2 separate regions of the Homo sapiens genome follow, and region 1 is linked to region 2. A link means that fine-mapping ties the variant in region 2 to the expression of a gene that starts in the linked region. Tissue or cell type: whole blood. Region 2 holds a variant in brackets; the other region holds the start of a gene. All regions are shown on one strand. Distances are from middle to middle.

The links. PIP is the estimated chance that this variant, and not a neighbour inherited with it, causes the effect.
Region 1: ASAP1 starts here. The variant in region 2 is fine-mapped to the expression of ASAP1 in whole blood (TOPMed, PIP above 0.99).

Annotation. Positions count from the first base shown.
Region 1 is chr8:130,440,244-130,448,348 of GRCh38, forward strand. ASAP1 (ArfGAP with SH3 domain, ankyrin repeat and PH domain 1) reads right to left here and starts at 3,431. Exons shown (of 30, transcript NM_018482.4): 1 at 3,217-3,431. RefSeq lists silencers at 2,986-3,065, 3,116-3,275, 3,286-3,375, 3,416-3,515 and an enhancer at 8,000-8,105.
Region 2 is chr8:130,209,533-130,217,637 of GRCh38, forward strand. It overlaps ASAP1 (ArfGAP with SH3 domain, ankyrin repeat and PH domain 1), which reads right to left. Exons shown (of 30, transcript NM_018482.4): 5 at 5,024-5,169. Among named protein-coding and RNA genes, the nearest start is that of ASAP1-IT1, 83 kb to the right of the region's middle. The variant T/TA (reference allele first, on the strand shown) is at 3,029.

The DNA.
Region 1 (8,105 bases), 230 kb after region 2:
AAAGCAATCTCAAAAATGTCCATCAGGCTGGCCATGGTCGCTCACCTGAGGTCAGGAGTTTGAGACCATCCTGATCAACACGGCGAAACCCCGTCTCTACTAAAAATATAAAAATTAGCCAGGTGTGGTGGTGCATGCCTATCATCCCAGCTACTCAGGAGGCTGAGGCAGGAGAATCACCTGAACCCAGGAGGCAGAGGTTGCAGTGAGCTGAGATCATGCCACTGCACTCCAGACTGGGCAACAGACCTAGACTCTGTCAAAAAAAAAAAAAAAAGAGTCAATCAGATATCACTGCTGAGCTTAAACTCACCAAAGCTTCCCTTTGTACTGGGTGGAGGGACTCTCCCCAGCATGGCTTAGAATCGGCTGTGTGATCTCGTCCCTGCTTCCCTCTCAAACCTCACCTTGCGCCATTCCCCCCATCTCTCCCTTACACTCTAGCCCTGCCTTCCCTCACTCCTTGGAATACACCAAGCTCTTTTGTGCATAGTCAACTTTGCACATTCCCATCCCTCTGCCTGGAAGGCCCTCCCCTGCAATCTCTCTGCCTGGCCAGTTCCTTCTCCATTTTCCAATCTCAGAAAGGCTTTCCCTTCCAAAACTAGGACCAACTTGTGCCACCAGCCCCTACTTTGGTCCCAGGTTTGTTTCCTTGATAACAAGGAATCACTCATCTGTTAGAGGTTGTTTCTTCTGCTTCTTCCTTGTTGCTCATCTCCTCCAGAGGAATGCAAGCTCCAGAAGGGCAGTGCCAGGTCTATTTCGTCCACCACTGTATCATCAGGACTCCACACAGGGCTTAGCATGGCGCAGGTGCTCAATGCATGGTTGTTCAATTGATGAATTAAAAGAGAAAGTGTGAGGCTGACATTGAAAGATGAGGCTGGAAATAGAAGGCCTTGAGAACAGGGTCCTATTCATCTTTGCAGGACTGGCACCTCCCACAGGGAAGCCACTTAGCAAATGTTTCACTGGATGCATGAAAGAAAAACTCGATTCCAGATAAATCTGAGATGTGCTGTCCTTTCTGGGCAAGGCTCCCCAAGAAGTTTCCGCTCCTCCTTAGGACTTCTTAGGAGGTAACATGTCTAGGGCATACAGCAAGTGCTTAATAAATGGGGTGACTGTTACTATTGCTCACGTGGGGATCACTCATGCAGTCTCCTAGAAAAGACCTTCCGGAGCCCATGCCAGATACAGCAGTGGTTGGGTGAAAAAACGGCAGGGAAAAATGAGAACCGAGCAGCAGGATCCAAATACGGCTGAGACCTAGGTGGGGAAATGGCAGGAACAACACTGTCCTAGCTAACTGGGGTTCCCTTCTTTCCTCTAGACTTCAGTCACCTAGGTGCAGCATGGAGATGCCAGCTGGGACGTGAGTCTTCACAAGGGAGGGCTCAATCTGAATGCACACATTCATCTTTGGGCCTGCCAGGCTTGCACTGATTTTGAAAATCTGGCTCGCTGTGGCTGGTGAGGACTGGGGAGGTGTAGAGAATTTCAATTTCCCTCACCAAATGGCAAGCTTGCGAAAAGTCCTTTCTCTCCAACATTATCACATACTAAAAATGAAAAACCAGCCATTCAGAGCTCTCATGAGAAAAATAGATGGGCTGCTTAGCTCACAAGAAACAGGAGGGCTGAAAATCAAGTCTAGAGAACATCAGAGGGTACATTATGTGCTAAGATACTGCCCTTTTTTGGACCTGGGAGTTTCTATTTTGCACAAAAGAATGGGATAGGGAAAGTAATTCCCCGTATAATAAGCCACTCATTTTATACTTCAAATCCATTTGGTAGCTGAATCTCCAAATCCACTTAGTGGCGTTAGGTGATTTTTGTTTTTTTTAACTCCCTATCTCAAAATATGCAGTTTGAAATAAGTGCATATCTCAAAAATAGCAGCATTAACAGGACAGAAGAGAAGGCACTAAAGTGGTGAAGGCTGTGACGCAAAGAAGACGTTTCCAAATCTGTTTCATGGCTAACAGATCAAAATCTAACACAGAAGGGGCATGGGACTGAGCCTGAAGAAGTGGAAACTACTCCTGGCCATGTGATCTTGGGCAAGTCAGGTCACCTTTCTGGGCCTTCTCTGAAGGGGGTGAATCAGTTGTTCTCAAAGATCTTTTTCTTTCCAAACTGTTCACTGGGTGTTTCCAGAAGACCCGCATTTTCTTAAAGCTATCTGGCCGCGCTACAATTGCAAAACAGAAAGGCTTTGGGATGAAGGTTGCAATACAGATAACCCTGGCCTAAAAACTGATAAGCTTTTACAATCCCAAAACATTACTCAGCAATCCAGGTCCTGATGTCATCCCAGAATCAATCACGCCAAGATAACCTAACAGAGTAGACAGGGGAAAATGCGAGAGAAAGTTCTTTTGCTTTCCTGACGAGTACAGGTAAAGTTGAGGTCAAGTTAACGATGATGGTCTGCAGTTGACCATCCTTCTCCCTGAGCTACTGGAAAACCACATTATTAAAGGAAACTGCTTTAGAAGTGCCCAAGATGAACCTCTTGGGATGTATCAAACCGCAGAAAACCGGACACCGGCAAGTTTCTTTTTTCTTTGAAACTTCATGTCGCTCTCAGAAAACGCAGCAGGTCCCAAAATGGTACAAGCAGAAAACACAAGCCACTTCACGGTCCGCCCAGGAGCCAACCCCAAGCTCCAAGTAGGACTCCCCCCACCCCCTTCCCTTTCGTTTCTCTTCTTTTGCTTTAGGCAAGTGGCCTGGGGCCTGCCAAGCAGCGCCGGGTCCGGGTAGGGGCCGGGGGCCGCGGGGAACTTTCCTCGGCTGCACCAGAGACAATGCCGGGAGGGCGCCCCATCGGCGGGGTCCGGGCCGCCAAGCACGTCGTCCCGGGCCCTCCCCCGGAGGGGGACGCGAAACCCCCCAGGGCGGGCCCCGTCCCCGGCCCCACTGCAGGGGCCCCCTCTCCCGAGCTGGAGGCGAGGAGACCTCCCCCCCCCACCGGGCGGCCTCGCCCGGCCCCGCAGAGCCTGGCCGCGCGTCCCGCACACGCCCCAGCCCAGGGCCGGCGCCCTCCCCGCGGAGAAGGACACCCCGCTGCGAGAGGAGCCGGGAGCCCGCCCCGCGCCCCGTCCCGGCGCCCTTCTTCGCGCGAGAGACTGGGCAGGGGGCGCCCGCGACTGTGGGCGACTCCGCCCGGCCCCGCCGAGCGCGCCCGAGCGCCCCGCAACTCACCGGGACCTGGCGGGCCGCTGGGCATTATTCCATCGCGGGTTCGGCCGGGCGCTCGCGGCTCTCGGGTGGGAAAGCGAACTGCGACCGGGAAGCGCCGGCTGGGCGGGAGGCGCGGGCCCGGGGCTGCCCAGCGCACAGTGCTCGCCCGCGGCAGCGGCCAGGCCAGGCGAGGCGCGGGAGCCGAGCGCGGCGCAGGAAGGGGCGGGCGACCATGTGCCGAGGGGGAGGAGGCCGCGGCGACGCGAGCGGCTCGCACGATCCCGCTCGGCGGCGGAGGGCGCGGGTTTCAGGAAATCCAAACACTTCGACAGGAAATCGGAATCCTGACTAAGCATTCCCGGCCCCGAGCCGCTCCGCGCCGGGGGCTCCCGCCTCGCTTAACCCTTGGCCCGCCGGCAGCCACGAGGGGGGCGTGGGAGGGGCCCCAGACCTCGGCCGGGGTCGGGCGTCCTTCGCCTTCCGCCCCATGCCCCGGCCGGCCGGCCTCCTCCCCGCCTGAGGTGGAAGGGGTGGGATTTATCCACAGAAAACCCTGGACGCGGAAGGTGCCTTTCTAAGGCCGGGACAGCGGCAAAGGACGTGCCTGTCTTCCATCTGCAGAGGATGGACCTGCACTGTCCTGGCCGTTACCCCTATTTTCAGTAAAGGAATGATTTCACCAGGCTGCCCCCTTTCACCACTTCCTCTCTGCTCTTATAATTTTATTTTTGCCCAGTGCCAAGGGAACAGGACCTTCCCAGTCAGGATAGTATAGGAACAGTATGGAGAGTAATTGTGTGGGCTGCAGGCTCTGTGTCCGGTTGGAATATGGCCTTTTTTCTACTCATGTTACCTTGAGTAACTCGCTCAACTTTCCTGAGCCTCAGTTTCCATTTATGAAATGGATGTTAATTCCACCCTCATAGGTTTGATCTGGAAGCTGAATGTTTAGACAGGGACTGGCACATTGGAAACGCCCAAATAAATGATAGCCATGCTTGTCCTTATTATTACCATTAAAAGACATCAGAGAAAGGAGGATTTTAATTTGTGGGATGTATATTGTGCATATCTATGTCTACTTTCAAAGTCAGAGACAGTAGTCTTTCTTTAGAACTTAATTTCCCTCCTAATCATTGGGTGATTGTTTTTCTTTGCAGCATTTCAGAAACGGCTCTCTGCAGAGGAAATGGTTAGTGGCTGTGGCAGACCCCCTTCTGGTGAAATCCGAAACAGAAAACCTCACAAAATTTGGGATTTTGCTCCTAATCTGAGAGTCTGGGTGTAGTGGGGAGTGGGGGTTGTTAAACAGTCTGGAGCGGATTTACAAAGTTTGGGAAAACCAAAATCAATCTCTGACTGGGCAGAGAGGTCGGGCAGCCAATGAGTGATTCATTGTGGTTTCCCACGGAAATGCCACATTTCGGGGGTGTCTACCTGGAGGATGCAGCTTGGTGGTTTTGCTGTAAGTGTTTCAGATTCCTTTGAAACCCAATCAGACTTTGAAGAGGGAACAACATGCTCATGAGCGAAAACAGAAGCCTGAAATGAACCTGCTGGGAACTGAAAGTTGGGTACCAGCTCGTTTACTCCAAGTAAGGAACAGATACCAGTTTTAGACCCAGCATTGTTCCTTTTCTGCAATTCTCTCTCCGTGGCCAGAAGCAGTAGGACAGCTCTGAGCTGGGCACCAGGAGTCCCAGGGTCCTGCTCCAGGCCCACTGTAGCTGCCGTCCCCTCTGCCTGGAAGAACCCTTGTATGGCTGTTCTTGGCACGCAGCTCACAGCCCAGAAGTCAGCTCCGCAGATAGGTTTTCCCCAACCATGTGATCTGCTTGTCTCTGGCACCTACACCCCACCTCCACCTCTCCCAAACATAGCGCATCCTGTTTGATTGCTTCATAGCCCTTGTCACTGTTTAATGTAGCCTACATGATTGGTTGCTTATTTTTTATCTGCCCCCCACTCTCCCCACTGCATGGGTAAACTGCATTACAGCAGTACCTTTGCCTGTTTCCTTAGAACAGTGCTGGCCCATATGAGACCATCGATAAACACGTGTTGAATAAATGAAAGAAGCAAACAAACTAGAGTTGCAGATGGGACCTCTGCCTGAGGTAGGGTGGTTCACTCGGTCCCGCAGCTCCCTGTGGCTTCCTCTTTGGTGGAGAGATTCAAAAGGGAACGCCCAGTGCGGTGGAAGGAGCACCAGATGGCTCTATTAGTGCTTCTGGAAAACTAAAACTATAAGTAGGCCAGGCGCGGTGGCTCACGCCTGTAATCCCAGCACTTTGGGAGGCCGAGCAGGTAGATCACCTAAGGTCAGGAGTTTGAGACCAGTCTGGCCAACATGGTGAAACCCCGTGTCTACTAAAAATACAAAAAATTGCCGGGCGTGGTGGTGGGCACCTGTAATCCCAGCTTCTCCAGAGGCTGAGGCAGGAGAATCGCTTGAACCCGGGAGGCAGAGGTTGCAGTGAGCTGAGATCATGCCATTGCATCCCAGACAGGGTGACAGAGTGAGACTCCGTCTCAAAAAAAAAAAAAAAAAAAAAAAAAAAAAAAACCTAAGTAATTAAGACTGTCAAATGAGGTAACTATAGTCTCATTGGTATAGTCCCAGTTAATTACTCCCTCCTTTGTGCTTCCTTGGCATTTCTGTTTAAAGAATATATTTGTCATATTGTATACTCACTAGATGACTGTTCTCCTAAATCAGATGGAGGAAAGGAGTCCACATTTGTTGACCACTTGCTCTGAGTGGGTCCCTGAGCAAGGTGAACTTGAATTCATTTTAAGGCATCGGTTAAGTGCCTGTAATGTGCTAAAAAAATCTGGGCCCTACATGTGCAATGATGAAAAAGAACTATTCTTGCTAAGAAAGACAGGAAAGCTCTATCTAGTAAGCAGAGAGATAAGTACTCTTATAGAGTCATGTCCAGGGTATCCAGGGCTATTCAGAACATTGAAGGTGGAGTAGGGTGGAGATAAGTTGGAAAATGCTTCCAAGAAGTGGGTGCTCTTGAACGAACTTTCAAGGAGGAGATGGGACCTATGTAGCTAGATAAGGGGGCACAGGCCTGCCAACCAGAGTAACAAGCGTGAGTGTTAGTGATGCTCGGCTCCATGTCCCCTGGGCCCACCTCTGAGCTCACCGGCAGCTGCAATGAGCTGCCCTCTGTACAGAGAAACTGTCTATCCAAAGCAGGCCCCCTTTCTCCTCTCTACCAGGAGGCTTTCTCAAGGGCTGTGGGATCTTGCCTAGCCTGGAAGTTTCCAACAGCCCTGGGTCAGTCCTTAACCAAACAGTGGATGAATGTGTCAGCCTCCCCTTCCCTAAGGAAGATCAATTCTCAAATGCTCTCAAGGCAGTTCCTCAGAGGAATTCCCCAGTAGGAATGAGTCCAGTTGCCCCCAGCAGTCACTCCCTCATTAAGTCACTCTTTGATTTTGCCTCTTCTCCCTTCCTTGCCTTACTTTCTCACTTCCTTATTTGTTCTTGGGATCCCAAATAAAGTAACTGCACCCATCTCCTTGTCTCAAGGTATACTTCTGGGGAAACCCAATCCAGAGTAGTGTTCATGCATATATTCACAGATACTGGCTGGGCACTCCCAAGTGCCTGAGTAAAGACTGAGCATGAACACATAATATATGTGGGTGACTCTACCAGGTTCAGCATGATCTGAGAACATGATGCATGTTCAGACATGGAAAACAATGAGACTAAAAAGCCTTACACCATCTTGCAGTTGAGGAAACTGAGGCACAGGAGTGTTGAGTAACTTGCCCAAGGCCAACCACTAGTGAGTAGAGGAGTGTATTAGTCCATTTTCAGGCTTCTGATAAAGACATACGTGAGACTGGGAAATTTACAAAAGAAAGACATTTAATTGGACTTACAGTTCCACGCAGCTGGGGAAGCCTTACAATCACAGCAGAAGACAAGGAGGAGCAAGTCATGTCTTACGTGGATGGCAGCAGGCAAAGAGAGAGAGAGTTTGTGCAGGGGAATGCATATGGGAATTCAAGATGAAATTTGGGTGGGGACACAGCCAAACCATATCAAGGAGCATTGGAGTCCAGGCTCTTCACCACCCTGCACTGTCTTTCTTGCCAGTTCAAGCTGTTGGGAGAGTGAATAATGAGAAGAAGAGAACCAGAGGAGAACCAGGGGGCATGGGAAGAAATTGCTTTTACAAGGAAGGAATGAGCAACATTCACAAATGTCACAGGAAATTTCATCAAGAAAGGACCAGAAAGCAAGTGTTCATTTCATTTGACAATGAGAAGGCTGATAACTTTTACCAGAGCTGTCTCGATGGAGTGGAGGGATTGGAAGCCAGATTGCGGTGGGTTGAGGACGGAGTGGGAGACAGTAAGCGTGGACAACTCTTTTCAGAAATGTAGCTGTCTAGCAAGTGGGAGGTAAGGGTAGAGGCTTCTTTAAAAATGTGTGGGCAGGCAAGCATCTGGGTTGGTAGGTGAGGTTGAGAGGAAGGGATGGTTCATTGATAGAACAGGTACTGAGGATGAGAGGAGATGGGAACTAGAGTGGGTTGGGGGCACGAACCCTGGACTGGAAGAGGCCACCTTGTCTGCTGAAGGAGAGGGCCGAAGGGCAAGGTGCAGAACTCTAAAGTTCCACCATGAACATCCTGAAGTCACAGACCAGGAGCTAGGTGGGTATCTTGAGTTTAGACCCCTGAGTTTAATTCCTTATGAAAATCATGCTCTGGGCTAGGCAAGGTGGCTCATGCCTGTAATCCCAACACTTTGGGAGACCCAAAGCAAGGGAATCATTTGAGCCCTGGAGTTTGAGACCAGCCTGGGCAAAATGGCAAGACCCCATCTCTACAAAAAAATTTAAAATTAGCCAGACATAGTAGTATGTGCTTCTAGTTCCAGCA
Region 2 (8,105 bases):
TGGTCTTGCTCTTACAGTAAAAAAAAAAAAAAGAAAGGCTATTTTCATTTAAGAATACCCATAATGAAAAAGTAAAAATGGATTTTTATCACATCTTGACCCTCAAATGCATCTTTTCAATGTTCTGTTTGATGAAATAGGAAGTATGCATAAAGCCCTTTTTAGGCATACCAAAATATGATGGTTGTTTTGAGGAAAAGTACTTATGTAATTTTTTGAGTTGCAAGTTGAACTAACTGGCATTGTTTTTTTAGTGGAACACCTTTTTTTTTGAAAGAAAGACTAGCAAACTATGGTTATTCGGACTCCAGTATTTGCCAAACATTTTCTTGAAAATGAATGAAGTGAGCTTATCACCTCGAGGTAAACAACTGATAGCATTTATTGCTAATGATAAAAACAGAGCTTTCAGTGGAAGCTAAAATTTTGGAAAACTTGAATTTGCCACGAGCTGACAGTTTCCAAATAATGTTCATTTGCATGGTTTCAGATTCACACCGTTAATAACATTTAAGGAAGGACTACTTATGAAGTTTTTATGTAGTATCAAAGATTACCTGAAATGGCTCTTAAAATACTCTTCTCTTTTCCCAATACAGATCTGTATGAGGCCTTATTTCCCATCTACCTCAACTAAAACAATAAATTGCAACAAAATGAATACAGAAGTAGACATGAAAATATAGCTACCGTCTATTAAGTTGGCTTTAAAGGGATTTACAAAAATGTTAAACAATGCCACCCTTCTAATGTTTTTTGGTTTGAGAAAATAGTTATTTTTCCATAAAAATAGATTTTTAAAGTGGGTTTATTTTAAAATACATAATACACATGGAAAACGTCTCAGTTTTAATTTCTAAGACAGTAAATATGAATAGAAGTAGTCCACATAAACAGAAACCACATAGTGTCCTTAGTCATTTTTAAGACTGAGGTCCTAAAACCAAAAAGTTTGAGAACTACCATCTAACACTCTCACTCTTTCCAATATGCTATAACTCACCAATGAGAGAAATCAAAGGACAAAAACAACCAAGAAAGTACCTTGCACGCTAAACACACACATTAGTTTAATTATCACCAGGACAGGCCCTGGTCATTGTGTCAGGTGGGCCTTTACCATCCACATAATCCATCAAGGCAATGTAATTCGTGGGGCAGCATCACTGAAACAAGGCATAATCTGTAGCCACAGGGCTTGAGCTCAATCCCTAATTGCACCATTTTGCAGGTATATATTTTTTGAAGATTTGGTGCATCTATCTCTAAAATGGGATATGACTGATAGCTGTCTTTACACTGAGTTACCTTAAAAATAAAATGAGAAGATGTAAATAACAATTAAGGTTTGTATTTGTGAAACAAATTTTTTGTCAGGTATTATGCTTAGTGACTTGCTTCTCTGACCTCAATGAAACCCTGCCACTACCAAGAAACAGTCACTCTTATTTATTTTTAGAGACAAGGAAACTAGCATTAGAAAAGTTAAGTGAATTGCCAAAGGCTATAAAGCTGGTGAGGCGGAAACTAGGATTCCAGGTGTGATTGGGACCAAAACCCATGATCCTCCAACCACCTATGCTTCATAGCCTCTCGAATCCTATGTTACAAGGTAGAAAAACTTTTTATAGGAACAATTTTCTATAATGTGGAGGAGGGGGGAGTAAGAAAAGCAAGTTACTTTAAAACTGACTTGGTGCATCAACTGCGGTATGGGCTCACAGAGTAATCAGCTGTAAGTGCAATCCTTTTCGCAGTCCTCAGACGTATGGTTAATTAAAAACAGCCTCAGCCCTATGCACTGTTAATGCCAACATCTTTGTAGGTAGCCCTTGGGAGTTTTCACATAACATCTCACTTGATCGTACTTTCTATAATCACAGACAGTTCAGAAAAAGGAAAAAAACCCGAAGCATCTCAATGATGGTTGAGATAGTTACCATCATTTAGTGCACTGATATTTTTTAAGACCACTGCCCCAGAAACTGATAAACACAATACACCTGCAATAGTGATTTCTTACATCGAACAAATAACAAATGTTTTTCTCATCCAGAGTTAGTCAAAAGCTGAAAGCTAGTATGAGACCTGGCCCGCAAATCTATCCTTTCCTTTTTCTCCATAAAAATAAGTAATGATTTAGTATAAACTATTAAAATACTCTTCAAAGGCAATACTTAATTAGAAAATGACATTTTTTAGTATTTAGCATAGACCTTCGAACATAATAGACTTTTGGTACTTGCTGGTTGAACTGGGAATACAATTTACAAAGTCTATAAAGTACCAAAGCACCTTCTCTTTAATTTCTACTGTATCAGTTTGCTTAACGTTTCTGGCCTTCACTAGCCTAAGAGAACAGGATTTTTGGGAATCTTCTGAGAAGTATGGGTTCCCACGGGGGTACTCCTGAGCCCCAGGAGGGTGTTGAGTGCTGCTCAGCTGGGGGCTGCAGGTGCTGCACGAAGATCCAGAACCCTGACCCCCTCGGGGTGAGTTGGCTTTCTGGGAGCCCTCTAATCCAAGGTGTGGCCCTATCAATCTGTCTAGTTTGCTCTTCCCTTTCCAGGAAAAGCATAAAAAGGGAAGCAGAAAGTTGCTGGCTGTTGTCAAGTTGTGTAAACTCCTGGGACTGCCTTTTATTCAATCAGAATAATGTTTTCTTAGTAACCAAACTACAGTAGAAACTGATTCTTCTACTTGGCTCCCTCACCAGGAATGCCACCACCACTTTCAAAGGCAAAATTTGTTTTCCTTTACTAAATGAATTAGGTTTTCCAGCAATTTCCTTTAGATTTTTCTTAGACTTCTACTCCTTAAAGGGGAGTGGGTGTGGAAAAAGGGCTGTAGCTTGAGGTATGTATATGGGAGTAGCTTGATCAGTACTTCTGCTGAGGGAAACAGCACAACCAGAGCATGAGGTGACAGAGGCAGGATATTGTAGAAGAGCAAAGGCAACGGGTTCAGAGACAGAATGTTTGGGTTCAAGTCTGTAACACATACTAATAGGGTAAATGAACAAGTTATA[T/TA]ATCTCAATTTGCCTCAGTTTCCTCATCTGGATTAAAGGTACAGTAACCACAGGATTGTTGTAATGTCTTCAATGAAATAATCTACATAACACACCCACCAAACTGCCAGGTTCATCAAAAACATTCAATAAATCTCAGATGGTTTTGTATGGAGACAAACAAATGTATTAGGTGAGCAAACGCAGATGATGAATGTTGGCCTGAATGGCCACTGAGCTGTGTGTATGGCACATATACACACAGTTGAAAGGAACCTGCAGCGTAGCAAACCGTAGAGATGAGATTGGTCCAGGAACCTTGGAGGTGATGACTCTTGACTTAAGCCAATACATTTGGTCCTTGGAAACTAAAGCAAGACATCAATGCGAAAACACCCATCTCAGAGAAAACAGATCTTCCTGCCCAAGCAAGTCCTTTACCAGCTATTACCAAAGTGAACTGTCAGTCTTGTTTTGCTTCCTCTCTTTCTACCACACCACACTTTGAGCAAGGCCTCCAGTGAAAGTGCAGGCAATGCTCAGAGTGAAGGAAAACCGAGGGTGCTCTTCTGAATAAATGAGGTTTATATAATCTAAGATTTACAAAAACATGGATTTGTTAAATCCAAAAGCACAGAAACATTAGAGCCAAAGTTCAAAATTATCCTTTCCGAAGTTTTTGAAAATAATAAATAATTCTATGTTCGATATTTATTTTCTTTCAGATTTGCTTATTCGCTGTGTAAGATTAATTCAATGGCATACATCGCCAATTAGAAAAACTGTCAGGAAGACAGACACATACACACGTTTATTTATTGTGACAGAGAAAAAGAATATTGTAACTGGCCAAATAGGTTAATGGAGTGTAGAAAGGTAGTTTTCATTTTTCAAATAGGTTATCTTCATCTGTAAACTAACCTTTTGTATCTAATGGATTATGACAAATTATCACCTAAGGCCACAGAAGCCTATGTGATACATGAATAACTGACCTAGGTTAAGGACATCTTGAGAATGAGTTCTGGATCCTTAAAGGAGGTAAAAGCACAATACCAAGAGACTGGGAGAGAAGAGGGAACAGCTCCTCTTCTCCAGGGCAGGGCTAACTTGGAAAAGCATGATATAAATAGTTTTCCTTTGGCACCTTTCAACCTCATTGTACTCCTTTCTCTGGGGACTTAGGAGGATTAAATTATTTCACTGGGTGGCTCTTAGAGAAATAATTTCATCCCCCAAAACCAACAAAATCCAAATGATCCGTCCAGGTGGTGTTACCCAGAACCTTTCTAAGTGTGCACATGGTATGAGGGCTGGGGAGGGGGTTGCAGCACAACATGGGGATGCCCACACACGACTGCCTGGCAAACAGTTTCCTCCACCACCCCCATCCCTGGGTCTGCCTCCCGGGGCCAGCACCTCTAGTGTCTCAGATCGTTAGGGATTCTTCCTGTCATTTACTTTGGAAACCAGAGATTCCTTAAATCTCAAAACCCTTTTCTTGGTTGGGGGTTAAAAGGATGTGGGGAGTTGAGGGAGGTTCATTATTTATATATCAGAAACCAAAATGCATGATCACCTTCACACAAGTGAGATATAATACTTTCAATGTGTATTTCCAATGTATGTTCGACACAGAAATCATCATTCTTTTAGCCAATTAAAAAGCAAAAGTTGCTAAAGGTTATCTTTAAAAAAAAATCAATGGTAGAGATGTGGAAGAGAATTCAGGTTAAGCAGTTTCTCTCTCAGCTTCGATAAATCTACTCTATCAGCTGGGCCAAAGGTACAAATTCCAGGAATTTCACAATGGGATTTTCTTTAAGCAAATCCTAGGCGACTAAAAAGCTTTTTAGTTGAGGTGTGGAAGTTACCTAGGACTAAAAAGCTTTTTGTTTTTTCTTTCTCACCCCTAGGACCAAGGATTGAGGGGGAAGGATTATTGAAATGTTCTCTATATGACGTAATATTTTGGAAAGGCTGTAATTCTTTTTACTCACATATGAAATGTCTTACCAGATTTTTCAGCAGTGTGGACAGTTCCTTTGTAAGAGTAGAAAACTTGACAAACGCGGTGCCAAGGTCGGGGTTGTCTCGACTTAAAAAATTACTCCCAAACTTATCAAGAACTTGTGCATAGTTTTCTTCATTTTGTACATGATCTAAAAACAAAAAAGAAGAAGAAAGGAGTCTGAACTATTATTTGCCACAATGAAAAGTTACTTTGAACACCGATCACTACGAATTCTCAAAATGGAAGCATAAACTGTATCAATTATTTATTGCACATGTCCCAAAGGTTAGGTTAGGAGTACACTAAATATTCTAACTCACTCTACTAAGGAAGATTTTCCCTTTTATCTTTTTTTCTTTTTTTTTGAGACAGAGTCTCACTCTGTCTCCCAGGCTGGAGTGCAATGGCACAATCTCGGCTCACTGCACCCTCCGCCTCCCAGGATCAAGTGATTCTCCTGCCTCAGCCTCTTGAGTAGCTGGGATTAAAGATGCATGCCACCATGCCCGGCTAATTTTTTGTATTTTTAGTAGAGACAGGGTTTCACCAAGTTGGTGAGGCTGGTCTCAAACTCCTGACCTTGTGATCCGCCCACCTCGGCCTCCAAAAGTGCTGGGATTACAGGTGTGAGCCACCGCACCTCGCCTTTCCCTTTTTCTTTCATAGAATTTAGCTCATTTATAGTCCAGTTAATCCACTAATTCCTCATAGGCTGAGGGGTCAAATTACATCACATTTTCAAGCAATTAAGAAACTATGATTGACTGGGTATGGTGGCTCACGCCTGTAATCCTAGAACTTTGGGAGGCTAACGTAGGCAGGTCGCTTGAGCCCAGGAGTTCAAGACCAGCCTGGGCAACATGGCGAGACCCCGTCTCTACAAAAAATTAACAATTAGCTGGGTGTAGGGCCGGGAGCGGTGGCTCACGCCTATAATCCCAGCACTTTGGGAGGCCAAGGCGGGCCGATCACGAGGTCAGGAGATCGAGACCATCCTGACTAACACGGTGAAACCCCATCTCTACTAAAAATACAAAAAAGTTAGCCAGGTGTAGTAGCGGGTGCCTGTAATCCCAGCTACTCGGGAGGCGGAGGCAGGAGAATGGTGTGAACCTGGGAGGCGGAGCTTGCAGTGAGCCGAGACCGCGTCACTGCACTCCAGCCTGAGCAACAGAGTGAGACTCTGTCTCAAAACAACAACAACAACAACAACAAAAAACAATTAGCTGGGTATTGTGGCATGCACCTGTGGTCTCAGCTACTTGGGAGGCTGAGGCAGGAGGACTGCTGGAGACTGGGAAGTCGAGGCTACAGTGAGCTGTGCTTGTGCCACTGCACCCAGCCTGGGTGATAGAATGAGACCCTATCTCCAAAAAAAAAGAAAGAAAGGAAAGGGGAAAGGGGAAAGAAAAAGAAAAAGAAAAAGGAAAGGAAAGGAAAGGAAAGGAAAGGAAAGGAAAGGAAAAAGGAAAGGAAAGGAAAAAGGAAAGGAAAAGAAAGAAAAGGAAAAAGGAAAGGAAAGGGAAAAGGAAGAAAGAAACTATGATTACCTGAAAAAGTAGAAAATTCTCCTTGGAAAAACAATCTTGGATTGCAAAAGAAAAATTCATGTGTCCTAACAGGTTTCTTTCCCTGCAACTAATCTTCATTTCCTTTAATTTTGTCTAAGTTCCAGGTCTGAGGAATAGTATTTGTAAAATGCTTTTCACAGTCCAGCTCTTGCTGCAAAATGTTCAGAATTGGATCAGATGAATTAGGTGCACATGAGAAACATTAATTTGTGAAAATTTCTCCTCCCTGAGCTTTTGTTTTCCAATCCATAAAATGAGTCCAATATCTAACTTACAGAATTGTGGTATTGATGAGCTGACATAAAGTATATAAAAGTTTCTCAGTAGAGCAAATACTGCATAAACAATAACCCCCACTGCCTTGAAACATGTTCTTTGTCTGGCTTCCAGGATATCACACTTTCTTGAGTGTCCTCTTGCCTCACGACTGGTCCTCTCCATTGTCTTTGCTGGTTCTTCATCTCTCTGACCTCATCATGTTGAGGCCCCTCAGTCTTGGACCTTTCTTCTCTATTTTTGCTTACTCTCTTGGGATCTCAGTCTTACGGCTTTAAATACTTTCTATCAGCTGATAACTCCTAAATTGATATCCCCAGCCCAGAAAAACCCACCCTCTGTAATACAGACATATATTCAACTACCTATTCAGTATCTCCACTAACTATGTTGAATCTTAACATGTCTAAAACCAAACTCTTGATCTTCTTCCCATTCTTTTTCTCACAGTCCCCTATCTGTGGCAATGGCAAATACACTCTGCTTCTGAAATGGTCTCTCTGTTGCTACTTTTGCCTCCCAGCAGTCTGGTACCAACACAGCATCCAATGCAACACTGTTATACTGTGCATCAGATCTTGTGACTCTTGTGGCAGACATTACCACTTGCCATGGATATCCAAGTTCCCAATCCTTGCAGGGTTACAGAAAGGAGTACTGCATTTCCCCATACTCTCAAAGTAAGGCAGGAAATATGGCATGCACCATCCAAGGCCATGTGAGTGGAAGTGATGCATACCACGTTCTCTTGGAAGCATTTCAGATGCCTGTACTCAACTCTCCACCTCCCTCCTCTGTTGTGGCGCACAGAGAAGCATGAATTTGTAGGGAGGCCCACAGTAGATGCATAGTATTTACATAATGAATAAATGAATAAATAGATATTTATCAAAGTCATATCTTTTTTTTTGGTTTTTTTTGGTCATATTTTTAAAGGCTTTACAATAAATTACTTTTCTTTATAAAGTCTTCCTTTAGTTGGAAACAATCCTTCCTTGCCCACAATTCTCTGTACCTCTACTGCAGTATTTTCTACCACATCCTATATGTGTATATATGTATATATACACGTATATATACACACGTATATATGTATATTATATGTGTATATATGTGTATATATGTGTGTATATATGTACACACACACACACACACACACAGATCTTTTCCTACCACCAGACCGCAAGAGGCAGGGATTACCTATGGTTCACTTCTGCATCCCTACCCAATGGACACT